Homo sapiens: one gene and its partners. The protein of the gene in region 5 purifies or fractionates together with the protein of the main gene of each other region. This does not show direct contact. Each region holds a gene or a part of one and is shown on either strand. Other genes may lie near its edges.

Region 1 (4,635 bases), on a different chromosome or scaffold from region 5:
AATAACTTTTCCCATTTAGATCTGAAGAAAGAGCGAAAAACCTTTTCCAGTGCCCAGTACCTCCTTCCAGATCTGGGCTGCTGTGTCCGCATCACAGTTCCGCATCCTAACGAGATGTTTCCTTGCAGCTTGTCGTCACGCAGCTGGGCTATGACACACGTGTGACCATCCTCGGGCACGTGCAGAGAGGAGGGACCCCTTCGGCATTCGACAGGATCTTGGTGAGTTGGGAAGGGTTGGGCATCTTCACAAGGTCTCTAGGAGGAAGCGTTTCTGGAGAGGCACAGGCACCAGCCGGCCACAGAGGCTGGCAAGGTGCTCCCCGAGAGATGCCCGCGGCCCGGCCCTCATCTTAACGATCCTTGAGACCTTTGGTGTAGACCAGTCTCTAGGCCTGCAGCCATTCAGATGCGGGGAGAGCTCCCTAATGTGGGAAGGCAGTGCTTGGTGTTGGCACGACGTGGACCCCAGAGGGCACAATCCCAGGGCAGAAAGGCTGTGTTTCTAGTGAGTTTCTGGAAACTGACTCAGGGCAGCAGGAATCCCAAGTACAAACCCTCAGTTCTTAACACTCCTGCTCTCCATGTGCCCTGACCTCCTCTCTGTTCCCGTCTTGCCAGTTCTAAAGGAGTGGAAATCGCTTTGCTCTAAAGAGTTGGGCTGGAAGCGGGAGGGGCTGTGAGCACCTGACTGAGGTCATTGGACGTCATGGAAAGATAGGAGGTGACAGGGACAGGGCAGGACGGGAGGCTGCCCCTGACCCACATGGACCTGGTTTCCAGGCCAGCCGCATGGGAGTGGAGGCAGTCATCGCCTTGCTAGAGGCCACCCCGGACACCCCAGCTTGCGTCGTGTCACTGAACGGGAACCACGCCGTGCGCCTGCCGCTGATGGAGTGCGTGCAGATGGTGAGTGGGCAGCCCATGGCCAAGGGCAGGGCGGAGACGGCTGGGACAGAAGCTGCTTGTCAGGCCAGCCTGGGCACCTTGGGTGTCTCGTCGGTGCACGATGCATTACACGGCCTTTCTGAGAAGGAGGTGAGCTGCCCGTGGGGAGGGAGAAGGCTTATGTTCTCTCCCACACCTGCAGAGCCTGCGCCGTCTTCGCTCTTTGGTTTTCTAAGTTACCATCCATCTGTGTGGCACATAGTCGTAACCTCCCCTGAGTGGGGGTCTAGAGCATCGGGATCCTCAACAGTCGAGGATCCAGGTGGCCCCAGTGCACCAGGTGCTGCAGAAGGACAGAGTGCAGGGAGGCAGCCGAGAGAGAGAGATCCGTGGACAGACTGCAGGGAGGCGGGCGTGAGAGAGACCCATGGGGCAGAGGGGGCAGGGAGGCAGGGAGGCGGGCGTGAGAGAGATCTACAGGGTGGTATTTTGTAGGGGAAGGTGGGACCTTCCCAAACTTCTCCAGTTTCAGCCATTTCCTGTCCTCCTATCCCCAAGGACATTCAGGTCTGTGATGGGACACAGGGAAAGCTCTGGTCACCCGAAGATACACCCACCCTTCTTGGGCCAGGGAACTGTCTGCCTGCAAATGAACAAAGGGAAAAGCAGTTCCAGCTTTTCAGGCATTGGTTCAGTAGTGGAGGTGGCTGTGGAGTTAGCTGCATTTGAAGTTATTTAATTAATTAATTTATTTATTTAGAGACGGAGTCTCACTGTTGCCCAGGCTAGAGTGCAGTGGCGTGATCTTGGCTCACTGCAAGCTCCGCCTCCTGGGTTCACGCCATTCTCCTGCCTCAGCCTTCCGAGTAGCTGGGACTACAGGTGCCCACCACCACGCCTGGCTAATTTTTTTTTTTTTTTTTTTTTTTTGTATTTTTAGTAGAGGTGGGGTTTCACCGTGTTAGCCAGGATGGTCTGGATCTCCTGACCTTGTGATCCATCCACCTCGGCCTCCCAAAGTGCTGGGATTACAGGCATGAGCCACCACGCCCAGCTGTTGTTTTATTTTTCAGAGTTCATTCATGATTCGTGACTCCTGTTTTGTTGCCTCTTAACACACACAAAGAAGTCGTGAAGCAATCAAGTCAGGGACTTGTTGAAAGTCACCTTGTAAACATAATTTCCAAAAGCCCAAGGGAGAAAATAGTATTTGTGTGTATGTGTGTGAGTGTGTGCGCAGGCTTGTGTCTCTGTGTGTATGTATGTATATGTGTGTGCATGTGTATCTCTGTATATGCATATACATGCAGGTTTATGCATATATTTATGCATGTGTGTGCATGTTTGTGAGGTAGTTTGGGTCTGCATGTATGTGTATGTTTATATGCATGAGTATGCATGTTTGTGGTAGTATGTCTGCATGTATGTGTGTGCATGTTTGTGTGCATGCATGTTTGTACGTGTGTGCATGTTTTTGTGAGGTAGTGTGTGTGCATGTTAGTGTGTGTGCATGTGTGTATATGCATGTGTACATTTGAGTGTGAGGTAGTATGTTTCTGCATGTTAGTGTGTGCATGTATGTTTATATGCATGTGTATATATGTGTGTGAGGTAATGCATCTGCATGTGTGTGCATGTATGCTTATATGCATGTGTGAGCATGTTTGAGATAGTGTGTGCATGTCTGTGTGTGCATGTGTTTATATGGATGTGTGTGTATGTTTGTGAGAGGTAGTATGTGCCTGCATGTTTGTGTGTGTGTGCAGGTATGTTTCTATGCAGATGTGTGCATGTTGGCATGAGTGTGAGGTAGCGTGTGTCTGCATGTTTGTGTGTGCAGGTATGCTTATGTGCATATGTGTGTATGTTGGAGTGTGAGGTAGTGTGTGTCTGCACGTTAGTGTGTGCCTGTGTGCATGTGAGAGGCAGTAGGCTTAAAAGGCTCAGAGCACTGAACGACATGCGGTACGTGTATTTTGAGCCTGTGTCTCATGTCTCTGCTTGTCTAGAGACGACCGTGGTAGGTGTCACTTGCCCTGACCTTGAAACCACCCTTGTGTGGCTTTGTTTTTAAAGCTGAGGGACCACTACTGTGCACCTGCTGTTTGTCAGGCGTCTTCCTGAGGGTCTGACATGCTTGAATAACCTTAGAGATAGCTGGAAGTAGGAGTATTTTTCTCATCTTACAGATGAGGAAATTGAAGTTCAGAGCGAGAAAGAACTTGACCAAGATCCTGACGTTGCCCAGGGCTGCCTGGCGTGCATCAGTCCCAGCCCCGTGTCCCAGGGCCTCCATCCGGGCCCCTCTGCTCCCCCGCCCGCTGTGACCTCGCTCCCATCCCACATCCCCCAGTGAGCTGGTGTGTTCTGTTTTGTTTTTCCCCACCATAATCAAATTGAGAATTCCTTAGAACCATGCCTGAGAGATTTCATTTCCTCTGGCTTTGTTCTCTTGGAGTTAAATCTTCACAGTGTTGTGTCCACAAACAGCAGGTGACACCTTCTCTTTTTCCTCAGAAGCCTCCTGAGCTAAGCAGTCCCAGGGCTCTGACCTCACAGCCGGGCCGTGTGGGGCTGGCTGCCAACCAGCATTAGGACACACTTGGCGGCCGGTCGTCTAGACCATTAACCCTGGGGCTGCTGGCTGCCCGGGTCAGACTGGAGGGGGCTGGTGGGAAGGACCGAGCCAGTCTCTACCTACCCCATCCATGATGCACCAGGTCCTGACACATTCTTTCTTCTTTTCATCATTGTTTTAAAAGACTCAGGATGTGCAGAAGGCGATGGACGAGAGGAGATTTCAAGATGCGGTTCGACTCCGAGGGAGGTGAGGTGCTTTGGAGAAAGCTCTGCCCTGTCAGGAACACACACCCCTCAGGCCCAGCCACTGCAAACGTGCTTAGGGGTTGTGCTTATTCCATGTCACTGTGAAAAATCAGAAAGTCAGGCAGTACTCACAGCACCGCTCTTGCAGTAGCAGGCCCTGGTGACTGGTTAGAGAGAAATCATTTTCTAAATTTGCCATTGGTCCTTTTTGGTAAGGTGATGGTTGTTTAGGAGCTAATGAGATTAAGGCACAAGGTGACTTGTGGCCCTTTAACAACAAACCAAAACAAAAAAAGGAGTCTCCTTCTGTTGCCTAGGCTAAAGTGCAGTGGTGCCATCTCAGCTCCCTGCAATCTCTGCCTCCCATGTTCAAGCAATTCTCATGTCTCAGCCTCCCAAGTAGCTGCGACTACCAGCTCGTACCAGTGCATGTCACCACATCCAGCTAATTTTTGTATTTTTAGTACAGACGGGGTTTCAACATGTTGGCCAGGCTGGTCTCAAATTCCTGACCTCAAATGATTCACCCGCCTCAGCCTCCCAAAGTGCTGGGATTACAGGCTTGAGCCACCGCACGCATGTCTTGCAAGAGAAAGTTATGAAGTGTAGAAGCGTGCCCTTTTCTCTTAGTCCATTTCCACCAGACACGGACAGCACCGCGGGTCGCGGCTAAGGGCTCTGCCATGCACATGGAACCCTGGGGCCTCCTCCTTCTGCCCAGATAGTCGGGCAGACACATTGAGTGCTGGCAGATAAGCCACCTTTTCTCCACATGAGCCCTGAGTTGTGTCCGGTATTCTCGACTCCGGTCCAACGACACCCTTTTCCTTTAGGAGCTTTGCGGGCAACCTGAACACCTACAAGCGACTTGCCATCAAGCTGCCGGATGATCAGATCCCAAAGGTAGGTGGCCGGCCTCCCG
Region 2 (4,635 bases), on a different chromosome or scaffold from region 5:
AGATCACTTGAGGTCAGGCGTTCAAGACCCACCTGGCCAACCTTATCAAACCCCGTCTCTACTAAAAATACAAAAAAAATTAGCTGGGCATGGTGGTGCATGCCTGTAATCCCAGCTATTTGGGAGGCTGAGGCAGAATTGTTTGAACCTGGGAAGTAGGGGTTGCAGTGAGCCAAGATTGCACCACTGTACTCCAGCTTGGGTGACAGAGCGAGACTTCATCTCAAAAAAAGAAAAAAAACGGTCAGTGAAAAGTATCTAAACTGAAACAGAGAAGAAAAAAAGAAAGAAAAATGGAGAGAATATCCAAGAACGATGGTACAATTAAATCATCTAACACATGTGTCATTAGAATCCCAGAAAGAGAAAATGGGGCAGAAGAAATATTTGAAGAGGAAAAAGCCAAGAAATTTCCATAAATTATGAAAGATATCAAACTGCAGATCCAAGCAGCAAAGAGAATAGGCTAAAACACATACACACAATGTATTCAAACAGCTGCCCTAAGAGAAAATCTTAAAAGCAGGGGTGGAGGGAGGTGGAGGGGAAGGTGGTGAGAGCAGCACACATTTATGCATTACATACAAAAGAAAAAAGACAGTTATACACTAGACTTCTCAAAAAAACTATGAGAGCCAGAGACAATGAAGTGTATTTTTTTAAAGTACTGAAAGAAAACAAAACACCACTGACCCAGAATCTTATATACGGTGAAAAATACCAGACAGTGGTTGCCAGGGGTTAAAGACAGGGAGGTATGGAAAGTGACTACTAATGGGTGTGGTTTTATTTGGGGTTGATAACAGCATTCTGGAATTAGTGATGATGGCTGCACAACATTTTGTGGGGTTTTTTTTGTTTTTTTTTTTGATAGAGTCTCACTGTGTCACCTAGGCTGGAGTGTAGTGGTGTGATCTCGGCTCACTGCAACTTCGACCTCCTAAGCTCAAGTGATCTTCCCACGTCAGACTCCCAAGTAGCTGGGACCACAGGCACGAGCCACCATGCATGGTTAATTTTAGAGCCACTGTGCCTGGCCAAGGTTTTGAATATACTAAAAACCACTGTACATTTTAAAAGGGTGAATTTTATTATATGTGAATTATATATCAATAAAAAGCATGAATTTTTTTTTTTTTTTTTTTGAGATGGAGTCTCACTCTGTCGCCCAGGCTGGAGTGCAGTGGCGCCATCTCGGTTCACTGCAAGCTCTGCCTCCTGGGTTCATGCCATTCTCCTGCCTCAGCCTCCCAAGTAGCTGGGACTACAGGTGCCCGCCACCACGCCCGGCTAATTTTTTGTGTGTTTTTAGTAGAGATGGGGTTTCACCGTGTTAGCCAAGATGGTCTCGATTTCCTGACCTGGTGATCCGCCCACCTCGGCCTCCCGAAGTGCTGGGATTACAGGCATGAGCCACTGTGCCCGGCCCTGATGATTTTTTAAAATAAAGAAATAGATACTTTTTCAGACAAAAAAAAAATCAGAATTTATTACCAGCAGACCCACACTACAAGAAAAATTAAAGTCCTTCAGGCAGAAGGGCTGTAATACCAGAGAGAAAACTGGATCTATACAAATAAGTGAAGATCCATGGAAATGGCTAAAATGAAGGTACGTGTACAAAGACTTTTCTTATTTTTTACCACTCTAAAACATAATTGACCATCTACAGTAAAATAGCAATGTATTGTAAGTTTATAGTATATGTAAAAATAAAATGCATAACAGTAGCCCAAAAGACAGGAGGAACTGGGAGAATACTGTTGTAAGGTATTTTCAATAGTAATGTAGTGTATAAAGACAGAATGTTATTAACTTAAAATGTATGCTGTAAGCTGTAGGGCAACTACTAAAAACATTTATTTATTTATTATTTTTTTTGAGACGGAGTCTCACTCTGTTGCCCAGGCTGGAGCACAGTGGCGCAATCTTGGCTCACTGCAAGCTCCGCCTCCCGGGTTCATACCATTCTCCTGCCTCAGCCTCCCAAGTAGCTGGGACTACAGGCACCCACCACTGCACCAGGCTAATTTTTTTTTTGTATTTTTAGTAGAGACAGGGTTTCTCTACTGTTAGCCACGATGGTCTTGATCTCCTGACCTCATGATCCGCCCGCCTTAGCCTCCCAAAGTGCTGGGATTAGAGTTGTAAGCCACTGCGCCCGGCCTAAAGACATTTTTTGAGAGGCAAAAATAATAAGCCAATAATAGAGATGAAATGCAATTATAAAAGATTATTCCCAAAACAGAAAGATCAGGAGAAAAGGAACAAAGAGTTGATGGAACAAATAGAAAACTAGCAAAACAATGGATTTTAACCCAATCACATCAATAATTACATTAAATTAAATGTTCTAAACACAAATTAAAAGAATGATTGTCAGACTGAATCAAAAAGGAAAATCCAACTATCTGTAGTGTAAAAATTAAGTTCAAGTCCAGGCGCAGTAGCTCATGCCTGTAATCCCAGCACTTAGGGGGTGCTGAGGCAGGCGGATCACCTGAGGTCAGGAGTTAGAGACCAGCCTGGCTAACATGGTGAAACCCTGTCTCTACTAAAAATACAAAAATTAGCCAGACATGGTGGCACGCACCTGTAATCCCGGCTATTCAGGCGGCCGAGGCAGAATTGCTTGAACCCAGGAGGTGGAGGTTGCAGTGAGCTAAGACCACACCATTGCACTCCATCCTGGGCAACAAGAGTGAAACTCTGTCTCAAAAAAAAAAAAAAAAAAAAAAAAAAGAATTAATGTATATTAAGCTAATACACATTAAGTTCCTAGAAAGAGTAACTGACTAGTAGTAAGTGCTTAATATTTGCTATTATAATTGATAGATGTTTTATAAATTAATCTTGTCTTGTACCAAATCATTTGTGTGTTACTAGACTGGCTAGACTGGGAATTTTCTTTTTTAATTTATGTTTTATTTCAATAGGTTTCTGGGGAACAGGTGGTGTCTGGTTACATGAATAAATTCTTTAGTGGTGATTTCTGAGATTTTGGTGCACCCATCACTGATAGGGAATTATCTGAGGGTGAGGCAAACTCTCTTGACTACTGAAACTGCCCCAAAGAGTTAAAAAACAAACAAACAAACAAAAACACCAATGACTAAATTCTTGGGCTTACAGGATAGCACATAAGAAAATAACTTGCTGAAACAGTGAAACTCCCTCCGCTTGTAAGATAACAAAACTGGCTGAATTGGTTGGAACCAATAACTGACTAGAGTATATGCAAAACAAGCTTGCTTATATCACAGCCTGAATTTCCACCACATTTCACACTAACTCCCCCTGAATTTGCACATGAGACCTATATGGAGGCAGGAAGAGATAACTGCACATACCTGAAGACTTTCCAGGCCTCCCCTTTCCTTCCACCAATCACCTACTAATCCCAGAATCCACTCCCTAAACATTTTTTTAATAAAAGTACTCCTTAAAGCCAGCTAGGGAGACAGAGTTGAGCTGGACTCCTGTCTTCTTGTTAGTCGACTTGAAATAAAAAACTTTTCTCGGCCAGGCGCAGTGGCTCACGCCTGTAATCCCAGCACTTTGGGAGGCCGAGGCGGGTGGATCACAAGGTCAGGAGATTGAGACCATTCTGGCTAACACCGCGTCTCTACTAAAAATACAAAAAATTAGCCGGGCCTGGTGGCACACGCCTGTAGTCCCAGCTACTTGGGAGGCTGAGGCAGGAGAATCGCTTGAACCCGAGAGGCAGAGGCTGCAGTGAGCCGAGATCACGCCACTGCACTCCAGCCTGGGCAACAGAGAGAGACTCTGTCTCAAAAAAAAAAAAAGAAGAAAAAAAAAAACTTTTCTCTGTTACCCAGGCTGGAGTGCAGTGGTGCAATCTCGGCTCACTGCACCCTCCACTCCCCACCCCAGGCTCAAGCTATCATTCCACCTCAGCCTGCCAAGTAGCTGGGACCAGCTACTCAGTATCATGGTATTGGCTTCTAGCACATTGGGTAGCAAGTCCCTTTTACTCGGTAACACTATTTCCAGTCCCCAAAATGAGATGACAGGTGAACAAACAATTCCCAATTTTAACAAGCAAACTGCTAAGAACTCAGGTGCTTTAGCAGTGTCAGACTAAATAATCTAATTAAAAATAAAACATGATGTTGGCATGTCAGATTTGTTTTCAATCTCCTGATAATGTTTTAACATGAACAGTTCAAATTATGTCTTACAGTGAAAGGGTTTTTGTTTCATTTTTGAGATGGGGTCTCACTCTGTCACTCAGGCTGGAGTACAGTAGCACGACCTCAGCTCACTGCAACCTCCACCTCCTGGGCTCAAGTCATCTTCCCACCTCAGCCTCCCAAGTAGCTGGGACCACGCCCAGCTAATTTTTTGTATTTTTGGTAGAGATGGGTTTTCGCCATGTTGCCCAGATTGGTCTTGAACTCCTGAGCTCAAGTAATCCACCTGCTCTGGCCTCCCAAAGTGCTGGGATTACAGGCATGAGCAACCGTGCCTGGCCTGAACCACTGCGCCCAGCCACAGTGAAAGTTTTATGAAGGAAATGTTAAACGTAGAGTTGTAATATGACCTAGCAATTCCACTCCTAGGCATCTATCCAAGAGAGATGAAAACAAATCCATGCAAAACTTGTACATGAAT
Region 3 (4,635 bases), on a different chromosome or scaffold from region 5:
ATGAACAAAGAAGACTCCAGGGGTCAGAGAAATCCTCAGGAAAAGAAGTGCAGGTATTCCATTATTGAATTTCTTTATATATTAGCAGGTAGAAATCTGCCAGCGTGCTTTGAAGTGGAATAGATAGGGGTATGGGTGTTTACAATGTCTGCTACACAAGAGTTGTCTGTTGACTTACCTAAGGAGCCTACTCATAGCTGAGTCATCAAATTGGTTGCAAGTATCCACACACACACTCTATCTGGGCCACAGTTGTTTTAGGAGGCATAGTCCTTTGGAGTATATTCTCTCAAAGTGGTCTTTTATGCCTGGAGGGACTGCCTTCCTTTTCAATTATTGAAGCTATTTTGTGACCACTATTTAAATTATTCCAGAAGTCTTCACCAAAGATGACTAGTAACAACGGGAAGAGAAAGAGGGCTCAAGAACATCCTGTTAAGGTCATTATATAGAAATTAGATTCTTTTCTAAGGTTAGTTCAGTCTCCAGTGTTTCTTCTCCTTTTTCTTCTACTTCTCCCATTTCAAGGAGTTTTTCTTATGAGTCACAAGTAAAATTATTCAACTACTTGCTCTTTTGACTTGATAACAGTTTCAAAATACTACCTTTATAAATTTAGATCTGTTGTGATTTGTAACTGCAGAGGAACAATGAGTAATTCTCATTTTCTAAAGATATACCGTCAATAGAAATTACCATCTCCACAACTACTCTCCTCCCACCATCCCTGGAGAGATTTTTGAATTTTCATTTTCTATTCAAGGGCTGAGTATATGCATTAGGAAAAGAAAATGGTAACAGGAACAGAAAGAGCAGCAAGGACCTCTGACCAAGTTTGGATATTTCTCATTTCTGGGCTTCCGGGAAAAAGGGAGCTAGGACTGAGTTGGAAGGAAGAAAGCTGTGTAAAGAAAGTTAAAGAAGGTCATAAAGGCTTGGCCAGCCTCGTAGCTCTTCCCAAAGCAGGCTCTATTTTTGATCATTTGCATGGTTGTATGATAAATTACATTTTACATACATAAGCATACTATCATGGATAGTATGAATGTTTCTGTTTTTAACTGTGAGCCTCATTATTTCAAGTGCCCTTGGCTTGTACTGGGGAAAAGATGACTCTTGTCATTTTATCTGCATTTTCTCAGAGACTTGGGATCATGGGCAAGGAATGTCTTCATATTTTTTGCAGAAAATCATTTAAATATCAAGAAAAACTAAGTGTGCAAGGAACTTAAGGAAGCTCTTACAAGAACTTTTATTTTCCCTTTATTAAAAAATATTTGTCTTATTTTGGAATTTATCATTATTCTTTTTCAATTCTACTTTCATTAGGTTTTAAACCGATCTAGTTCCAAAGACATATGGCTTTATTAAAAGACATTGCAAATTTTCTTATTATGATAAACAGATAATAAGATGCCTTATAACAAAGGCAAAAAATTATTCAGTTATATTTGTAATTGTGAATCTATTATGAAGGTATGATGAAACAGTCAAGTTTAAGCAATATAAGTTGGGTATTGCATTAAATTTTCTTAAAGTGCTCCAAATTAAAATGAATCACATTTAAAAATCCATATATCCATGGTATTCCCTTTTTGGCTTCTTTTTTTTTTTTTTTTTTTTTTTGAGATGGAATCTCGTTATGTTGCTCAGGCCAGGCTGAAGTGCAATGGTGCGATCTTGGCTCACTACAAACTCCACCTCCTGGGTTCAAGCGATTCTCCTGCCTCAGCCTCCCGAGTTGCTGGGATTATAGGCGCCCACCACCACACCTGGCTAATTTTTGTATTTTTAGTAGAAACGGGGTTTCTTCATGTTGGCCAGGCTGATCTTGACCTGGCCTCAGGTGATCCACCTGCCTTGGCCTCCCAAAGTGCTGGGATTACAGGCATGATCCACCACACCCGACCCCCTTTTGGCTTCTAATAGCAATGATAGAACATATCTTGGGAGAAAAACTCTCCAGAATTTGTTTGTAAAAATAACCCTTGTTTGTGCCTAAAGCCACTCTTTGTTTACTAGTATTCCAAAATAATTTCCAAGAAATAAGTCAGGCTTCAATTAGAAGCACCTACTAATCCACAAACTGTGAATAACACATAACTCCAAGTACAAATCAGATTAGCTGGTACTGTCATGCTTTTTTCCACAAAGGATGGAGGGTGCTAAATGTCACAGCATATGTAGAGGTATTTAGAATCAGTATTTAGAATTAGTAGACTGCATTTTTCCCCAATAGGTTTCATAGAATGGGCAATATTATCAAAGATGTCAATAGATAGTCTCTGAAAAATAAAGTTTCATGGCCACATATATTTGGGAAACTCAGAATGTACAATTTTTTATATTTGGAGAATGTTGACACCTATTACTATATTAAAGACTCTGAGATGTACTATAAGAAAGAAATCTGTTGACCTTGTTTGTTGACCTCAGTGTTTTCCTCACTCTTTACATGGAATACAATTGAGGAAAGCTGTTTTAGCTATGTGGTTGGAAATGAGGAACACCGTTTTCACTCCTTCACCAGGGTCTACCCAGATCTCTGTTGTTCTCATTGACATGGTCATCATTGTCATCATCGTCATTGCAAAATTTGTTCTTAAATGAATTAAGCACCGTGCTGAGAAAGTTACATATATAATTTCGGTGTTATTCAAGTTTACAATTTAAGACTATCAGTTTGAATAGTACACACATCATCTAGCCAGCCAGTCACTAAAGGATTAATTCAAGATAAGGTACATTTTTGGTTTAAATTATAGGGTTTATATTTAGTTAAGGAAGAGAATAGAGAGGTGCCATTTTCAGACTGAAAGTCTCAGGATAAAGCCATTATCTATCTGTTAGCTATCTTTGAGGAAGATTTCTGGAACTGTTTAAATCATGAGGAGACTGCTTGGACAGTTAGGAAGAATGTCTCAGGCATAAAATGCTGCATTAGGAAAAGAAAATGGTAACAGGAACAGAAAGAGCAGCAAGGACCTCTGACCAAGGTTGGGTATTTCTCATTTCTGGGCTTCTGGGAAAAAGGGAGCTAGGACTGAGTTGGAAGGAAGAAAGCTGTGTAAAGAAAGTTAAAGAAGGTCAAAAAGGCTTGGCCAGCCTCATAGCTCTTCCCAAAGCAGGCTCTATTTTTGATCATTTGCATGGTTGTATGATAAATTACGTTTTATATACATAAGCATTTAGCTTGCTTACCAGAAGGATGCAACTTAATATGCCTTAATTTTATCATTGTTGTTTGTGAGGATAAAATCATTTGAGTCATGAATAAACAGATAATGAGCATATAATCTTTATGAATATACTTATGTATTACATTAATATTTTATTTTTAATAATAAAATGTGTTGAGAAATAACAGTATACAAGATAACAAATCTACATTGAATCAACTTGAATTGTTTTATTTCCCCAATTGACTGATAAGCGTGTAAATTAGTTATTTTAACCTACACAGGTATTCAAGTATACAAGCTATTTTGAATGAATATTTGTTTTTCTACTACAAAGTGTTATCAGTTCCTATTGAGTTCATAATTTGAGAAAGGCCTTGTTAGCACCAGACTTCAGCCAAAGGCAGCTTTTTAAAAATGTCCCCATCCTAACAAAAATAATCGTCTTTTTATTTACTGTGATTTATTTACTTATATGCCTGAGCCCCAGTTTTTGAAATTGAATGTATGAACTAAAATATTTGTAACTATAGAGAATTCTTTCCACTTCTGAATCTTATAGGTATCATTCCTATCCATGGGGGACCAAGAATCACCCAACCAAAAGATGAAAATGCTGCATTTTGAGTGGACTTGATTTTCTCAGTGAAGTTCAAGTTCTGGACTTCAGCCGCTATTGCAAGATGCCCAAGGATTGGGTGCTGCTAGAGGGTGTGGAAAAGACCAAGATGCCATGGGGCCTGCAGGACTTCTTTCTGGGGGTCCTGTGCTGGAGTATATGACAGCTGCGGTACTTGAGGGCTTCATTGCCAGAACACATTATATACAGGATGTCAGAGCTACCAGTGTGCTGCTGGGAGAAAATGCTGCAAAATTCATCTTTTGGAGGGTGGGGGGAAAACCCAAAAACAACAACAAAAAAACTCTCTTACAGAATTTTCCTTAACATTAAAAAAAACTTGTCATATTTTTCAAAGGCACATTTGATACTCAGAATTGCTAAAAGTATATTTAAAGACATCTAGCCTTCCATATGTAAAAAATATTTTAGATAAAGACAGTTACAGGACTCAGAATAATATATTGGGTGATTCACTGTATCCTCCATTTTTACATTTAAAGAAATTCAAAATACGTGATTAAATTTTTTTTTTTTTAATGGATGGGTTGGTTCTCGCTTAACCACTTGGGTGCTAGTGGTCTTGAACTGTGATACAGTGTAGACAGTATTTGTAACCTTGCACAGCCTCTGGGGGTAACTGTCAAACTGTCAGATTTAACTTAGACTAATAGAATATATTGCTGTACAGTGTGTGTATATGTTTATATATGAGGGCGGAAGGAGAGAGGTTTTGATTAGACTAATGCTTTGCTGCTAATCAAACTTATAGTATTTTTAGAGCACTTTGAAGAGTTTATAGAATCTATGAAAAAGATGCAATATTCCTCATCCTAA
Region 4 (3,500 bases), on a different chromosome or scaffold from region 5:
TAGGCTCGAGCGATCCTTCTGCCTCAGTATCCCAAGTAGCTGGGATCACAGGCATATGCCACCACACCCAACTAATTTTCTTGATTTTTTTTTTTTTGTAAAGATGGGATCTTGCCATGTTGCCCAGGCTGGTCTCAAACCCCTAGGCTCAAGTAATCCTCCTACCTTGTCCTCCCAAAGTGCAGTGATTACAAGCGTGACCAATCACACCTGGCCAAAACTTGTCCAGTTCTATTCCTTTTTTGGTTTCATTTTTACGGGAACCTGCAACTTAGGATAAAATCTATATGGGCAGCCAAAAGATGCTTTATTCCATTGTTGAGCACCTACTGTATACAGGGGGCCTTGGGTGAAAGCAGAGTAGGGAATACAAAAGTGAAAGAGAAAAGTCACTGTTTACGAAGTTTACCATCTTGAAGAAAAGCTATAAAGCTTGGCAAAAGCTATCAAATTGCTGGGCATATGATAGCAGTGCTAAACATTGGCATAGCTAGGGCACATCTAGTGAGATAACATTACAGACCTGATAACTTGAAGATGATTTTAAAAAATAAAAATACGTCAATTTCAGAATGTTTAGAAAACAAGAAAAAGGAAAATAATAATCTACAAGTGGCCATATTAGCATTTGGAATATATCCTTCCACTGTTTTTTTGCTATGTAGACATATACATGTATACACATATGGGGGGTATATTTTTACACATCTATTTTTAATGAGATTATACCATATATATTGTTCTGTATTTTTTCCACTTAATATTTCATAAACCTCTTTCTGATCCTTTTACATCCTTTATAACAATAGAACAGGTTTGCACACCCTCCTCACTTAGGAAACCTTCCACCAAAGCAGTTTTGCTTTTTTTGTTTTGGTTTGGTTTGGTTTGGTTTGGAGACAGAGTCTCGCTCTGTTGCCAGGCTGAAGTGCAGTGGCATGATCTCGGCTCACTGCTACCTCCGTCTTCCGGGTTCAAGCGATTCTCCTGCCTCAGCCTCCCGAGTAGCTGGGACTACAGGCGCATGCCACCACGCCCGGCTAACGTTTTGTATTTTTAGTAGAGACGGGGTTTCACCGTGTTAGCCAGGATGGTCTCCATCTCTTGACCTCATGATCCGCCCACCCTGGCCTCCCAAAGTGCTGGGATTACAGGAGTGAGCCACCACGCCTGGCCACCAAAGCAGTTTTACATGTATCTGCTTTCCAACATTGCATTTCTAGAAGCTTTTATTTCAAGAATGTATGCCACAATTAAGTTTTGAAAAACACCGTTCTCTAGTATACTTTTTAATGCTTGCAATCTATTGGATCAGATGACCTTAACCAGTCCTGTGTTGAGCATTTAGATTTTTTCCAGTTCTTCACTGTCATAATAAACGACACATCCATTGTGTCTTCAGAATGCTTCTCAGAAGTACAGGTGATACATCAAAGACTGCTCAAAATTTTAAGGCAGTTGCCAAATTGCCTCCCCAAAACTTGTATCAGTCTGCACTCCCACCAGCATTGTACATGATGATGTTTTCATTCTTCCTAGCAAACTGTTATATTTTCTTTTCCAACTTGCTTATTCTTTAGGTGGAAATGGCATTCGCCTATCATTGACTAATGGTGCGTGGTTGTATATTTTTCCCTATTGGTTACTTGATTTTTTTTTTTCATGAGTTGCCTGTCATTACCTCAGTGTATTTTTCCTTTGGGCTTTTTGTCATTTTATTAGTTAATTTTAAAAAGTTACATATAGGAGTATTAACCTTCTTTTTTTTTTTGAGGTGGACTCTCGCTCTGTCACCCAGGCTGGAGTACAGTGGTGTGATCTCAGCTCACTGCAACCTCTGCCTCCCAGGTTCAAGCGATTCTCATGCCTCAGCCTCCTAAGTAGCTGGGATTACAGGCACACGCCACCATGCTCAGCTAATATTTTCGTATTTTTAGTAGAAACGGGGTTTTGCCATATTGGCCAGGCTGGTCTTGAACTCCTGACCTCAGGTGATCTGCCTGCCTCAGAGGAGTACTAACCTTCTGTTTAACAGATTGTAATAGTTCATTTTTTAATTTTGTTCAGCATGGTTTAAATTTTATAAAATATTTTAGTAATCAGGTCTATCTTTGCCTTTCCTCGTTTCTACTTTAGGTAATAACATGCTGAGAAATCTCTTAAGGTTAGATAAAATAATATTCATGTCGTATTTTTTATTTTTTTGCAACTAGACTTCTTTTCCATCTGAAATTTATTATTATAGAGAGAAATCAAAATTCAACTTTTTTTTTTTTTTTTTTTTGAGATGGAGTTTCACTCTTGTTGCCCAGGCTGGAGTGTAATGGCACAATCTCGGCTTACCACAACCTCTGCCACCCGGGCTCAAGCAACTCTCCTGCCTTAAGCCTCCCGGGTAGCTGGATTACAGGCATGCACTACCACGCCTGGCTAATTTTGTATTTGTAGTAGAGATGGGGTTTCTCCATGTTGGTCAGGCTGGTCTTGAACTCCCGACCTCAGGTGATCTGCCCACCTCAGCCTCCCAAAGTGTTGGGATTACAGGCATGAGCCACCATGCCCGGCCCAAAATTCAACTTTTTTACCCCAAAATAGAGCTGGTAATTCCTAACAATCTTTTATAAGGCTGGATTGGTAGAATAGCACTTCAATCAAAGGTTTGTGGGAATGGTTTCCCTGTGTTGCTGTATCATTCCTAATTATGATTCCCTTGCAATCCAACAGTTCTATCAAGGTTATTTTTTAAAGTTTCTCATCTTTTTTTTTTTCCTTAGAATCAAGTGTTCCCATGTGCCAAGGGGAACTGAGGCATTGGAAGACCGGTCACTACACTTTAATTCATGACCATAGCAAGGCTGAATTTGCCCTAGACTTAATTCTGTACTGTGGCTGTGAAGGTAAGAGGGAGGAAAGCAAGCGGTGGATTATTCCCCGTAGGAGGGGCAGTCTCTTCTGAGGGACCCTTTCCAGCTGAACCAATTCATAAGTAATTTGCCTAGTTCAGAATCTCACATCATGGGATCTCAAAGTCAAAGGGATTTTACGGGTCATGAATTCCAGTCTCCCAGCTCAAAATAGGATTTATATCTGTGACTAGGAAATGGGGAGATGGACCACACCATAATTTTCCCCTAAGTGTGCTCCCAGATCTATAGATTTTATGTAATTGCCCTTCTGGGAATATTTAGCATTTAATTCTCTCTTAATTTTCATATTCAAAGTTTATTGAAATAAGACTGCATTTCAGTTCAGCTGTCTCAGGAAATTAGGCATTTAGGGGAAGGCAATCCATGATAAACTAGATGATAAGTTCAAGCTCATAAGTCATAGAACCAGTTACTGCTGAACTCCCAGATCCCCCACTGTTAAGCAGCATGGGATCAGTGATTTAAGTAGATGGTGCGACTCTTTCAATAGGAGCTTTCTGAATGCTGTTTGTTTTTCTCTTGTAAGGCTGGGAGCCAGAATATGGCGGTTTTACTTCTTACATTGCCAAAGGT
Region 5 (4,635 bases):
GCTGGCTGGGACAGATTCCATTGAGTCATTCCTCTAAAGAAATGCCTAGTCCAGCTGCCACCTGCACCCAGGTTGGCTCTTTTACTCCACAGATCCACGCTTGCTTTCTTCAGCCCCGTGCAGCCTCTGGGATGAAACAGCTCTGACAGCTCACTTGGATGTAGATGAAAGTTCTCCCACCTTGGCCCCCCACCCCTACCCCTTCATATGATTGGCATGTTAGTGCATTTGGGGATCACTGGCTACATGGAAACCTAAATTTACAGATCAATTTGTCAATTCATTGGAAGAAAGCAAGGTAGAGAGAAGGTTTATCACCATCTTGCAGCTTCTGTAGATTTAGTGGAGGCAGCAAGGGATAGTTCTCTCCTCCTCAGATCTACTCAGGTCAACTTGTTATGAAACGCTTGTTTCTCAATCTACCTTAAAAACAAGCCTTATAAAATTGATAGAATTATTCACCAATTCTTTATTGAATCAGCGGGAGATTCACAATAAAGAACAGCAAGCAAATAAACTCTCCTACGAGTTGTTAGCCCCATGAAGCTAAAACCAATCATTTACTTGGCAGGAAAAAAATTCAACCAACATTTGATGGCATTAAGAATCTCATGTAAGAGTGTACCCTCAAAAGAGCAAATGTGGCTTATCGTGGTGGCTCACGCCTGTAATCCCAGCACTTTAGGAGGCCGAGGCAGGCAGATCACTTGAGGTCAGGAGTTCAAGATCAGCCTGGTCAACATGGTGAAACCCCGTCTCTACTAAAAATACAAAAATTAGTTGTGTGTGGTGGCGGGCACCTGTAATCCCAGGTACTTGGGAGGCTGAGGCAGGAGAATCACTTGAATCTGGGAGGCATATGTTGCAGTGAGCCAAGATTGTGCCACTGGACTCCAGCCTGGGCGACAGAGCAAAACTGTGTCTCAAAGAAAATGAAAATAAAAATAAAAAGAGTAAATGCAACCTCTGACTTCCACAGGAGTCAGGGACTGAGCCCACAGGAGGAAGTTCAGTGCCCATCCTCTCTTATCTGAGCATTTCAGGCTTCTTGGGGGCAGGACAGTATATCATCCTGCTGCATTTCTCAGCAAAAAAATATGTCATCAGTTCTCCCATGGTCATGAGTTTTCAGAGGAAAACTGTTTCTGCCTCATCGTCTTCCTATTTCATACAATACCTTCAGATGGGTTTTACAACAGCCCTGCATGCTGAAATGAGGCAAACAGGCCTATGGTTCTTTCCTGTTACAGGAAGCAGTGTTCACATTGCTCAGTATTTTAAAACCCAAAATTGGCCCTTGCCTAAGTGCAGCATAAAGTATTTTGTAAGTCAAGATGTTTTGATCCTTTGTTGATGTCATCATTTTATTTATTATAGCATTTCTAGTTATGAACCCAAGTTAATGGACTTTTTCTTTTTTTTTTTTTTTTTTTTTTTTTTTTGAGACAGAGTCTCACTCTGTCTCCCAGGCTGGAGTGCAGTGGCACAATCTCTGCTCTCTGCAACCTCTGCCTCCCAGGTTCAAGTGATTCTTTTGCCTCAGCCTCCTGAGTAGCTGGGATTACAGGTGCCCGCCACCATGCCCGGCTAATTTTCATATTTTTAGTAGAGACGGGGTTTCACCATGTTGGCCAGGCTGGTCTCAAACTCCTGACCTCATGATCAGCCCACCTCGGCCTCCCAAAGTGCTGGGATTACAGGCGTTGCCACCACGCCTGGCCAAGTTAATGGACTCTTTAACAAGCTTCTTGACAACTGGCAAACTTCAACTGTTTCTTTATTAAAATTTTATTTTATTTTATTTTACTTTATTTTTTGAGATGGAGTCTCACTCTGTCACCCAGGGTGGAGTACAGTGGCATGATCACAGCTCACTGTAGCCCTGACCTCCCGGGCTCAAGCAATCCTCCCACCTCAGCTTCCTGAGTAGCTGGGACTACAGGTGCACACCACCACACTCGGCTAATTTTTAAATTTTTTTTAGAGATAGGTTCTCACTATGTTGCCCAGGCTGCTCTCAAACTCCTGGGATCAAGTGACCTTCCTGCCTCAAAAAAATTTTATCTTTGTTCTCTTATGACTGGGATAGCGGAAGTTTAGTTTTTAATTCTGAATTACAGATTACAGTTATTGACTTTGCATTGCCTTGTAGCTCTTGGCTGCTCTTTGTGGGGTTCAGGGACCAGTAGAATCAGGAGCCCCTGGGAGCTTATTAGGAATGCAGAATTTCAGGCCCCTCCCCAGACCTACTGAGAATCTGCATTTTAAGAAGATGTGACTTTCTGACGAGCTCAGATCTCTCTCCAGCCTTCCCTAGGGTTCATCTTGCATCTGATACCTCCTCCTTCCTCCAGTGGCTCTCTAACTCCTAGCTCTTCCAACTAAAGATGTTGTTGCTATGAGTCCCATTTCCATTCATCATTACACTGGTAGTTAATATTAGTGGGAAGCTTACTGGCTTTCTTGATAAACAACACTATCAAAATTTGAATAAGTGAACTTGTATTCATTTCTCTGGCTGTTGACAATAATGGTTAGTCTAAATTCTCAAAAGATAGTGGCTGTGTTTATTTTTGTCTCTTCACACTGTTCCTGAGACAGGCATTACACTCATGTTTAGGTGATCATGAGATGTCCAACATTGTGTTGTAATTCTTAAGCAGTATCTTCTAAAACTAAAGCTGAGTTTTCTAAGAGGTGAATATGAGGTATCAAATAGGTAAAATAACCATATTGGAGATTATCTCATTGACAAAGCTGCTTTGTTTACCCCCTTCTGGCCAGAACACAATTCCATTTTTTAATGTATAGTCATGCACCACATAATGACATTTCAGTCAACAATACAACACATATGCAATAGTGGTCCCATAAGATGGTAATGGAGCTGCCCCCTGTGGGTGTACCATTTCTTATGTTTTATACTGAATTTTTACTGTACTATTTCTATGTTTAGATATACAAACACCATCGTGTTACCATTACCTATAGTATTCAGCACAGTAACGTGCTGTACAGGTTTGTAGTCTAGGAGCAGGAGGCCATACCATATAGCTCAGGTGTGTAGTAGGCAGCACCATCTGGGTTTGTGTAAGTGCACTCTGTGATGTTTGCACAATGACAACGTTGCTTAAGAACACATTTTTCAGAATGTATCCCTGTCGTTAAGCAATCCACAACTGTATGTGTCATATTTTAAAGGTTTCAATAATTTAAAAATACATCCCCCTCCAATGTGTTTGGTGGTGGTGGTGTTCTTATTTTGATGTGTTTGTTTGTTTGTTGCAAATGAAAATGTATTTGATGTCCAGGATATCCTAAATAGAAACCATAGTTTAAAATCGTATATAAGAAATATTTTGTTATAAATTGACATAAATACCTAGGAAAATATTGAAATTGTCAATAAAATAAGTTCATTACCTCTTGGAATATGTTATTTTCAAAATAAACTATAATCTATAGTTCATTATCAAATCAAAATTACATAAGGATTGAGATAAGCAAAGACTACATAATGCAATAATGTTCTGTACCTATACCAATAAGCTTGATTAAAAGAGTGTTCTGTAAGTAGCATTTTCTAACTGATTCTGTATATTCTAGCCACAAGAATCTTGACTGAACCCTTTGTGTAGGACTCAACAGGCCCAGGTATCCAACGATAAACATCCCTGTAAGGCGTCTGTCTTTAGCTGAAGCTGGACAATTGGATTCACAGACGTTAAGACAGAGGCTCTGGAACACAGAGACCTAAGGGCAGATCTTATCTCTATCGTTTACTGTTTGACCTTGAGATCTTATCTCTACCGTTTACTATTTGACCTTGAGCAGTTACAATTCCTCATCTTTAAAAGAGGATTAAATGCAGTAATACATATAAAATATTTAGAGCTGTATTAGCGAGTATTATTGTTGATGTAGGCTGTAAAAAAGTTACAAAACAGTACTCAGTATTCATAAGTTGTTTCAGTTAAAGATGTTTTAAATTTAATATAATATAATTGAAGTGCTAGGTTCATATTTCCTGACAAATAAATTCTAAGCAATACTGTATCCTTTTGCAGGTAGAAGAAGCAGATGATTGGCTCAGATATGGAAACCCTTGGGAGAAGTCCCGCCCAGAATTCATGCTGCCTGTGCACTTCTATGGAAAAGTAGAACACACCAACACCGGGACCAAGTGGATTGACACTCAAGTATTCAGAGTGCTCGTATAGCCAGCGTTTTGTATAGTATTTAGTACAGTAGATAATACATTGACTATGTAGCATATAGTGGTGATATTGAGTATAGGGCATGTCGTGTTTTGAATAATAGAATATATTTTTGTAAATAAATCTGTTACTTCTCTTAGCGCAGCCCAGTCATTTTGGAGACAAAGGAGCTGAGGCCAAGAGAGGAGTGACTTTTATAAGGGTCATTTTGCAACCAGCTTTGTCAGAAAATTGTCAGTTCTTTTTTTTTTTTTTTTTTTTTTGCCAGAAAATTGTCAGTTCTATAGTAACCAGCATGCTTACCTCTTTGGTTTTATATTAAGGTGTTGATAGCAAAATTGAATAATTTGAAATGTCATTCCTGGCTGGGTGCAGTGGCTCACAACTGTAATCCCAGCACTTTGGGAAGCCGAAGCGG
Region 6 (4,635 bases), on a different chromosome or scaffold from region 5:
AACAACTGGCTCAAAGGTTGGAAGGGTTTTCCGGGCGTGGGTATCTTGTCTCTGGGGGCATCGGTTCTCCTACTGCCTCCAGGGGGTGTCTGCCCTCCACCCTGCTGCCTCCTGTCCGGCCACTGCCCAGGGTTTCTGTCTTTCTGCTCAGTCTTTTTCAGTTTGGCCAATAACGGTACCTTGTTGTTTTCACTTCTTTGATTCTTAGCGGGGCTGAACATTTTTTCGTACCCTCTGGCCATTTGTATTTCATAGAGGCTGCTTGTATGTATTAAATGCATTTCTTTTCTGTAGGAAACTCCGGGACGTTTTACAGCAGAGGCTGATCAAATTCTTCATTGACCAGAGTAAAAAAGATGCTGAGAAGTATGCAAAGTTTTTTGAAGATTACGGCCTGTTCATGCGGGAGGGCATTGTGACCGCCACCGAGCAGGAGGTCAAGGTATAGGAGCTGTGTTCCAGGCCTTTTTCTGGGCCACCTTGTCCCTGGGGCTGCTGAGGAAGCTGGTGGAGGTGTCCCCTGATGTGGCGACGGTGCAGCTGGGTACCCTGGCTGCTGCTGCTGCTGCCACCAGGGTCAGGAAATGGAAGGCCAGGCTTCTGGGCCTCTGGCACCTTCCAGGCACATCCTTACCCTCCCACCAGTGCTGTGCTGTGCTCTGAAGGGCTCAGCCTCACTGCTGTGTGAAGGTGCAGCCCAGGGAGTGGCAGGAAGAGGGCGTGCACACACTGTCTCCCCTCAGAGGATGTTGGGGGCTGGGGAGCCACAGACAGGTGGGACAAGCCAAGGACTCCGATCCCGTGGGTGGGGAAGTGGGTGGTCTCAGTGTCTGTTGAGGGACTATTCATCATGTACTGGATATCAGTCTCCAAATACTATGCTACAGGGGCCAGTCGTTCAGTTAATCCAATAGTGGATGGCTGAAAAACGAAACATTTGTTCCATAAACATTTTTTGTCCATTTTTTATTGAGATACAACTTACATAGCATCAGATTCACAGAATTCACCTTTTAACACGTAAAATTCAGTGGCATTTAGTGCATTCACAGTGTGGTGTGGCTGCCTCCACTGTAACCCCAGAACATTTCATCCCAGGAGCCCATCCCGTGCTGGTGTCCCTTCTCCCCAGCAGCAGGAGGAGGGTGACCACGTGTGTGGGGTCCCAAGGAGGCCGTGTTCTGGTTGTTTGCCGACTTCGGCAGCTTCTGACACAGGCCTCTTCATTCTCCTTTATCTTCATTTGAGTTAACAGCACACAGGTAAGAGTCAGAGACATTTCTAGGTCTTTGTAGGTGTGCACGTGTGACATGTCTTATCAATGCAGACCCACCATGTGTGCAGGGGTGGCCTGGGCCCTGCTGGTTGGGTGTCCAGCTCCTTGCTTTTCCCTCTTTCTGTTTTCCCCCTGCGTCCTTCCAGCTGCAGCTCCCATGAGCTCTAGAGGTCACAGCTGCGTTCAGCTGATGGGGAGGAGGGCAAACCCCTCCCCTAAGGGCCCTTCTCCAAATCCCACTGAAACCCACTGGGCAAAGCCAGTCTCTGCCATAGCCAGCTGTGAGGAGGGCCGGGAACCGTGGACTTCACCCGTGTCCGTGTGCCCACCAGAGACTGACTCTGTCACTGAGGGCAGAGGGAAGACGCTGGGTCCAGGCCGGGCTCTGCTGTTGGGTGGGGTCCCCTCCCAGGGCGTGGTGCGCGTAGCTCCCTGGAGAGCCCCTGGGCCACCTGGGGCAGGAGGTGCTTCCTAAGCCCCCAGAGCTCCCAAAAGGGGCCTGATGGGCAGAGCAAGGCCTGCTCTCGGACAACCCCCGAGTCCACTACCGTCCCTCGGGTCAGGGCCAGCCTGGAGTGCCAGGAGGCCATGGGCATCGGAGGGTTTGCGCCCAGTTAGTTGGGCAACATTGAGCCCATGGGCCTGGAATAAGTGGTGACCTGCCCCGTCCCTTCTAGGAGGACATAGCAAAGCTGCTGCGCTACGAGTCCTCGGCGCTGCCCTCCGGGCAGCTAACCAGCCTCTCAGAATACGCCAGCCGCATGCGGGCCGGCACCCGCAACATCTACTACCTGTGCGCCCCCAACCGTCACCTGGCAGAGCACTCACCCTACTATGAGGCCATGAAGAAGAAAGACACAGAGGTGGGTGAGCGGTGGGTGGGGCGGGCTCCGGGGGCTGCAACCTGGGGAGGGTCTTGACCTTCTCAGCTCTGTGCTGGGTGAACCTGCCCAAGACTCCGGGCAGGGCTGCACAGTGGGTCAGGGTCACGGGCACAGAGGCCGGACCGACTGTGACGGCTGTTTCCCACTTGGAGGTCACATGTGGTTTTTTTTGTTTGTTTTTTGTTTTTTTGAGATGGAGTCTTGCTCTCTCGCCCAGGCTAGAGTGCAGTGGTGCGATCTCGGCTCACTGCAACTTCCGCCTCCTGGGTTCAGGTCATTCTCCTGCCTCAGCCTCCTGAGTAGCTGGGACTACAGGTGCACACCACCACACCCAGCAAATTTTTGTATTTTTAATAGAGACGGCATTTCACCATGTTGGTCTCGAACTCCTGACCTCATGATCTGCCTGCTTTGGCCTCCCAAAGTGCTGGGATTACAGGCGTGAGCCACTGCACTCAGCCACATGTGGATTTCTTTATGCGTGGAGTGCTTCTGCCTTGAAGGCAGTCAGAGCCTTCCTTAGACCCAGGTGTCGTAGTAACTGTCATGCAGGCCTAGGAACCCCAACTGCCCCGGTGTTCCCCAGTGTGGCCCGCTTGGCTCCCCCAGCCCTCCTGCCGCCCTCATCCTTTCTTCTGTGGTGGCTGGAGGCCCCCGGGGTCTGATGGAGCTGCTCTTGGCCACCTGCAGGTTCTCTTCTGCTTTGAGCAGTTTGATGAGCTCACCCTGCTGCACCTTCGTGAGTTTGACAAGAAGAAGCTGATCTCTGTGGAGACGGACATAGTCGTGGATCACTACAAGGAGGAGAAGTTTGAGGACAGGTCCCCAGGTCGGCATCCCCTGCTCTCTAGGCGTGGGGCTGGTTTCCACTCCCCGCACGCCTCTCCTGCCCCGCAGCGAGGGCTTCCTTTGGGTTTTCGTCAGTTGACCTGGGCTCAGCCACCCCCGAGAAGAGCCTTGTGGGAGCACCCTGGTGACTGGAGGAAGGTGCCTCCTGGTTTAGATATCAGGGGTCTGTCCAGTGCTCCTGCCACGGTGGCTTCTGGAGCTGGCCCAGCTTCTTGAGAGGCTGTGTATTTTTTTAAAGCCCTAACCAAGTTGTATGGGCCTCAGGCAACCTGAAGCATCCTTTGAGGTTTTACTTTTAGATGAAAAGCATCTTGCTAGCTTGTGTCTCCATCCTGGTGGGAGAGGAGGTGGGAGCTGGAAGCATGCTGCGTGGCCCCCATGGAAGCCGGGGAGTTGGGATGCAGGCCTGAGCTCCCTGTCGCCTGCTCTTCCGCAGCCGCCGAGTGCCTATCAGAGAAGGAGACGGAGGAGCTCATGGCCTGGATGAGAAATGTGCTGGGGTCGCGTGTCACCAACGTGAAGGTGAGGCTTTCCCGGGGATGGACCACCACTTGGCCGCAGTGTCCCTAACAGGCTGGCCAGCTGGTGGCTCCCAGTACCTGGCCCGTTGGGTGTCCTTCCAGCAGCAGCAGAAGCCCTTGGTGTCAGGTGGAGACCCTGTGGGTCCCTGCTCGGCACGTGTTGCTCGGGAGTGCCGCTGAGGCAGGAAGGCCGTGTCTTTCTCCCAGCCCTGCTCCAGAGCAGGTGTGAACTGAGAACTGAAAAACCAGCATCCTGAGTGGGAGCTGCAATGGCTGAGGACGTGGGGGTTCCAAACAAGGGACATGCTACCCCAGCCCTCAGGAGCTCACATGCTCACTTGGGTGCTTAGTCGGGGGTTTTGGGTGGGCTTCAGAGAGCTAAGACTCCCCCCACCAACCTGTCTAGCTCAGAGTGAGAAATGAGCGTCCCATGCATGGTCACTTGGAGGAAGGGGCCTCATGCAGGGTGGGCTGGCATGGAGCAGAGGACGATGGATTCGGGCAGCTCCTGGAGGCAGCAGCGGGGCACCAGGGTGGTGGAGCCCCTCGGGCACAGTATCTTTGCGTGGGGCATCAGCTCAGGGCCCACAAGTTAGTGGGTAATGGGGAGGGAGCAGCGCTGGTCCAGGGGAGTCCTTGAGACCCCGCCTGCTACCTCGTGGTCTGGGTGACCTTCACCCCTGGTAAGATCCTGCCAGCCCTCTCACATTGGGAACCTCTATCACCCTCAACCCCGGGCTTTGCTCACAGGTGACCCTCCGACTGGACACCCACCCTGCCATGGTCACCGTGCTGGAGATGGGGGCTGCCCGCCACTTCCTGCGCATGCAGCAGCTGGCCAAGACCCAGGAGGAGCGCGCACAGCTCCTGCAGCCCACGCTGGAGATCAACCCCAGGTGAGGCCACGCTCCTGGCTCTTCCAGCCTGTGGGATTCCCCAGAATCCTGTGTGTGGTGTTCTTTTGTTGTGGAATGTGACACAGAAGAAAAGTGCGTGAGGCCTGTGGACATGTGGGTAACTATAAGGAGCTGTATGCAGTTTAGGCTGCACCCATGTGAAATGGAACCTGGCCAGCCCCTTACCATCCCCAGGTGTCACCTGGGAG
Region 7 (3,854 bases), on a different chromosome or scaffold from region 5:
AGTTTTGCAAGAAGCCATTGCCAAGGCTGTGTGTTCACAATCAGACTGGTTAATTGGGTTGTTATGTGGACCTTGGGTTGTTAGGAAGTCAGTGGCAAGAGCCTGTCAGGAGGCTCCCACAGTCCAAGCAAGAGGTCTAGGTGATTCAGACCACAGTGATGATAGGAGTGATGGCGTAGTTTGGGATACATTTTTAAGTGGAGCTTACTAGTAAATATTAGGATTTAGACTGGTATATGCTCACTTTAGATCATGAAACCTGAAGTGAGAAGAATTCTACTTAACAAGACTGCTGGAAACTTTTAAAGCATTTTAAGCGTGTGCTCAATAAGCAGGGTAGTTATGTAGTGGCCTTTTGGATCAATGGTTTGGGAACGTGGTGGAGAAAAGGAGGGTGATAATACGGTCTGATGCCTATGTGATCCCCCAGTAGCCTACATATGTGCCTAACGAAGACCTGCCTGTCACCAGGTACTGCCTAGGTTCTAAGCCCCAGACTGTGGCTGACATCTTCAGCAGCCAAGCTCAGTGTTTTAGACTAGGAACAGAATGCTCCTGTGATGCAGCTTCTTTTGGAGGTAGGGCTTTAAAAGAGAAGAAAGCAAAGACTTGGGAAGCAACAGAATGGGGAGGAGGAGGTTAAGAACAAGGAAGAAGCGCTCTGGGCATGGGGTGGCCCTGGGCTGCAGCACCCTGCCTGCCCCTCTCCTGTGGCCGCTGGGGAAAGCTGCTTTCCTCTAATGGGAGAAGCCTGATGTTCAGCTGCAGTTTTTCTTTTTATGTTTAAGTGATTCTGTAAGCTTAAAATTCTTTTCTTTTTTCCTTTCAGGCACATAGCAGTATTTCCCTGCAAGATAAAAATCCTCCCTCAGTACATTTTTAATTCTCGAGATCCGATAGTGATGGGGGTGACGGTGGAAGCAGGTCAGGTGAAACAGGGGACACCCATGTGTGTCCCAAGCAAAAATGTAAGTTCTAGTTGTACATTCTGTGGGTCATTTCTTAAAGCACTAAATGAGTGTCCAAGAGTCGTACCAACACAGCTTTGTGCCTGTAGTTCACAGTACTGTGCTGTGTATTTAGTGTGGTCTCCACCTTCTTAACAAATGTTTCAGTGTTTTTACCTCAGTAGGAAGAAAATGTGGTAACTTTAAAACAAGCAGAGCCTGTCACCTTCTGTTGTGCTTCAGTATTGGTAAATATCAGTGCTCCATAGTCAGTGTTGACTCAGTGCTGATCTCAGTGCTTCAGTTAATTGGGGCTCCAAGGCACTTTACATTATTGCCTTTTATTTTATTTTGAAAGGTTTCAAGCCTGTGGAAAAGTTTAAAAACTAGTATAATGAACACTCATGTTTACCTTCCCTTTCTGTCAGCATACCTAAGAAAAATTAATAATATTTCAACAATATCCTATAATTTGCAGCCCTCAACATTATTTCACCAGTTATTCCAAAGATGTTTTGGTAACTCTCCCCACCAATCTGGCCCAGTGCCCTGCAAGCTGCATTGCACTGGGGCTTGTTTTGTGGCTGAGCCTCAGTCAAGAACAGTCCTCCATTCTTTTTGAAGTGTCCCTGTTGTTTTGCAAATCCCTCCTCCATTTGGATTTATCTGTTTCTCTCCCTCCCAACTAGACACAGGTTAGAATTATTGGAAAGACACTCATGCAGTTTCCCTGTGTGCCTGCCTCTTGCATGACCCAGCCTGTCTGACTGCTGCTGATGCTCTGATTTCCTGGGGAAAGTGCTAGACGCCAACCATCTCCATTAGAAACTTGCCCCTTTATAATTACTCTGTAATCTGTCTGGTACCTGGAGTTCCTAATGGATATCCTGTTTCTCAACAGCCTTTATCCCAGTGCCTTTAGTACCCACTGGCAAGCGTTGCCTAAGTCAACTATTACGTAGATGGTTGCAAAATTGTGGATATACCTGTCCCCCCATTTCTTACAAAGAACCTCTTCCCACTGACCTTTTTATTGAGTCATAGACTCAGTGGGTTTTTTTTTTTTTAATATAATCCATTACCTTTATTCTTTTGATACTCAGATTTTCTATTGTGGTCAGTAGGAGCTCAACTGGCTCCTGTATCCTTGACACACAGCAGTCTGAGCATCATCTTCCTTTCTGGTTGAGATGTTCCAGCCTCATCTAGTACTTTCCCTGGCCCAAACCTGGTTCTTGTAATGGGCAATGGCACTTAGAAGTTGTCATTGCTTTTCTACCATTTCAGTGGACTAAGCCTGGACATTTATTTGTGTTACTTTCTATGTGGCTTTGGCCTCCTAAACCAACCAGAGCTCTCCCTGTTTTCACTCTTACTCTCCTGAATCTTTTTCTCCACAAAGGAGTCAGGGTTTTTTGCCCCAAACTCTGAGATCACATCACTCATCTGCTCACAGGCCATCATTCTTAAAATTTCAGGATTGGTCCTCACTCTGACTTCATTCCCATCAGCCACTTCAAGCTCATTCCTGACTCAGACCCTTTGTGCCTGCTGATCCCTCCTATTACGGCACCTGTCACGTGAAATGGTAGAGCAAAAATAGGAAATGACATTGGGTCAACAGGGCACTTGGAATGTTTTGCAAAGCACATTATCTCCTGTCATTCTTACAACCATCATGAAGGGAATAGGGTGTTGGTGGTGCCAGCCTAGTTTACCAAAATGTTACACCGTGAGTGATGAAAGGATCGCACTGCCATGACTTTTAAAACAGGCTTTTGCTCTAGTTCTTACTTCAGCTATCCAGCCATGGCGCCTGTGATTGGCATGAATTCTTCTGCATGCATTTTAATTTGTTCTTATTTTATAGTTTGTTGACATCGGAATAGTAACAAGTATTGAAATAAACCATAAACAAGTGGATGTTGCAAAAAAAGGACAAGAAGTTTGTGTAAAAATAGAACCTATCCCTGGTGAGTCACCCAAAATGTTTGGAAGACATTTTGAAGCTACAGATATTCTTGTTAGTAAGGTAAGTATTTCAGCAAAAGTGGCACACTTTAAGCAACAGGGAATCACTCTTCTTGGGTCACCTGTACCTGTAGCTCCTTGGGCTTCAGTTTGATTGTAGAATCTGATGGGACTGGATCCCCCATTAGGGCTTGACCTCTAGCTGGGCCTTGTCTGTTGAGGAAGTTGCTCTATCAGGAAAGCAGCACCAACAGAGAAAGCTAGGACTTTTAGGTCCCCTCGTGCCTGACATGCAAACCAGATGTGATTTTGGAATTCTACTCCCTTAGGCAGGCAAGCCCTGTTTTTTATTTCTGCTTAAGCTTTTTAGTACAGTGAGAGCGGGCATCTGGGGCCACAGCTTTCTTTGGCACGTTTGTTATGTTCTGTTTACCCTGTTTGTGCCTCGGGCATTGCAGATCAGCCGGCAGTCCATTGATGCACTCAAAGACTGGTTCAGAGATGAAATGCAGAAGAGTGACTGGCAGCTTATTGTGGAGCTGAAGAAAGTATTTGAAATCATCTAATTTTTTCACATGGAGCAGGAACTGGAGTAAATGCAATACTGTGTTGTAATATCCCAACAAAAATCAGACAAAAAATGGAACAGACGTATTTGGACACTGATGGACTTAAGTATGGAAGGAAGAAAAATAGGTGTATAAAATGTTTTCCATGAGAAACCAAGAAACTTACACTGGTTTGACAGTGGTCAGTTACATGTCCCCACAGTTCCAATGTGCCTGTTCACTCACCTCTCCCTTCCCCAACCCTTCTCTACTTGGCTGCTGTTTTAAAGTTTGCCCTTCCCCAAATTTGGATTTTTATTACAGATCTAAAGCTCTTTCGATTTTATACTGATTAAATCAGTACTGCAGTATTTGATTAACCAAGCTT

The links.
Region 1: the proteins of PYGL (region 5) and PFKP fractionate together in Homo sapiens (co-fractionation; one large-scale study listed by BioGRID). This does not show direct contact.
Region 2: the proteins of PYGL (region 5) and HMCES fractionate together in Homo sapiens (co-fractionation; one large-scale study listed by BioGRID). This does not show direct contact.
Region 3: the proteins of PYGL (region 5) and NEK10 purify together in Homo sapiens (co-immunoprecipitation; one large-scale study listed by IntAct). This does not show direct contact.
Region 4: the proteins of PYGL (region 5) and OGFOD1 fractionate together in Homo sapiens (co-fractionation; one large-scale study listed by BioGRID). This does not show direct contact.
Region 6: the proteins of PYGL (region 5) and TRAP1 purify together in Homo sapiens (affinity purification with mass spectrometry, with the first as the bait; one large-scale study listed by BioGRID). This does not show direct contact.
Region 7: the proteins of PYGL (region 5) and EIF5B purify together in Homo sapiens (affinity purification with mass spectrometry, with the first as the bait; one large-scale study listed by BioGRID). This does not show direct contact.

What each region holds. Positions count from the first base shown.
Region 1 is NC_000010.11:3,108,573-3,113,207, forward strand, and holds part of PFKP (ATP-dependent 6-phosphofructokinase, platelet type), read left to right. Parts: intron 1-128; coding exon 129-221; intron 222-782; coding exon 783-908; intron 909-3,649; coding exon 3,650-3,714; intron 3,715-4,546; coding exon 4,547-4,616; intron 4,617-4,635. UniProt on the Homo sapiens protein: Catalyzes the phosphorylation of D-fructose 6-phosphate to fructose 1,6-bisphosphate by ATP, the first committing step of glycolysis.
Region 2 is NC_000003.12:129,291,669-129,296,303, reverse strand, and holds part of HMCES (abasic site processing protein HMCES), read right to left. Parts: intron 1-4,635.
Region 3 is NC_000003.12:27,110,427-27,115,061, reverse strand, and holds part of NEK10 (serine/threonine-protein kinase Nek10), read left to right. Parts: intron 1-763; coding exon of another isoform or gene 764-782; exon of another isoform or gene 783-836; intron 837-3,741; coding exon 3,742-3,790; 3' UTR 3,791-4,635. UniProt on the Homo sapiens protein: Plays a role in the cellular response to UV irradiation. Mediates G2/M cell cycle arrest, MEK autoactivation and ERK1/2-signaling pathway activation in response to UV irradiation.
Region 4 is NC_000016.10:56,472,054-56,475,553, forward strand, and holds part of OGFOD1 (prolyl 3-hydroxylase OGFOD1), read left to right. Parts: intron 1-2,774; coding exon 2,775-2,897; intron 2,898-3,453; coding exon 3,454-3,500.
Region 5 is NC_000014.9:50,923,533-50,928,167, reverse strand, and holds part of PYGL (glycogen phosphorylase, liver form), read left to right. Parts: intron 1-4,067; coding exon 4,068-4,199; intron 4,200-4,635. UniProt on the Homo sapiens protein: Allosteric enzyme that catalyzes the rate-limiting step in glycogen catabolism, the phosphorolytic cleavage of glycogen to produce glucose-1-phosphate, and plays a central role in maintaining cellular and organismal glucose homeostasis.
Region 6 is NC_000016.10:3,661,778-3,666,412, reverse strand, and holds part of TRAP1 (heat shock protein 75 kDa, mitochondrial isoform 1 precursor), read left to right. Parts: intron 1-294; coding exon 295-442; intron 443-951; exon of another isoform or gene 952-1,953; coding exon 1,954-2,139; exon of another isoform or gene 2,140-2,850; coding exon 2,851-2,989; exon of another isoform or gene 2,990-3,445; coding exon 3,446-3,531; exon of another isoform or gene 3,532-3,767; intron 3,768-4,280; coding exon 4,281-4,426; intron 4,427-4,635.
Region 7 is NC_000002.12:99,395,931-99,399,784, forward strand, and holds part of EIF5B (eukaryotic translation initiation factor 5B), read left to right. Parts: intron 1-829; coding exon 830-968; intron 969-2,817; coding exon 2,818-2,979; intron 2,980-3,376; coding exon 3,377-3,484; 3' UTR 3,485-3,854. UniProt on the Homo sapiens protein: Plays a role in translation initiation.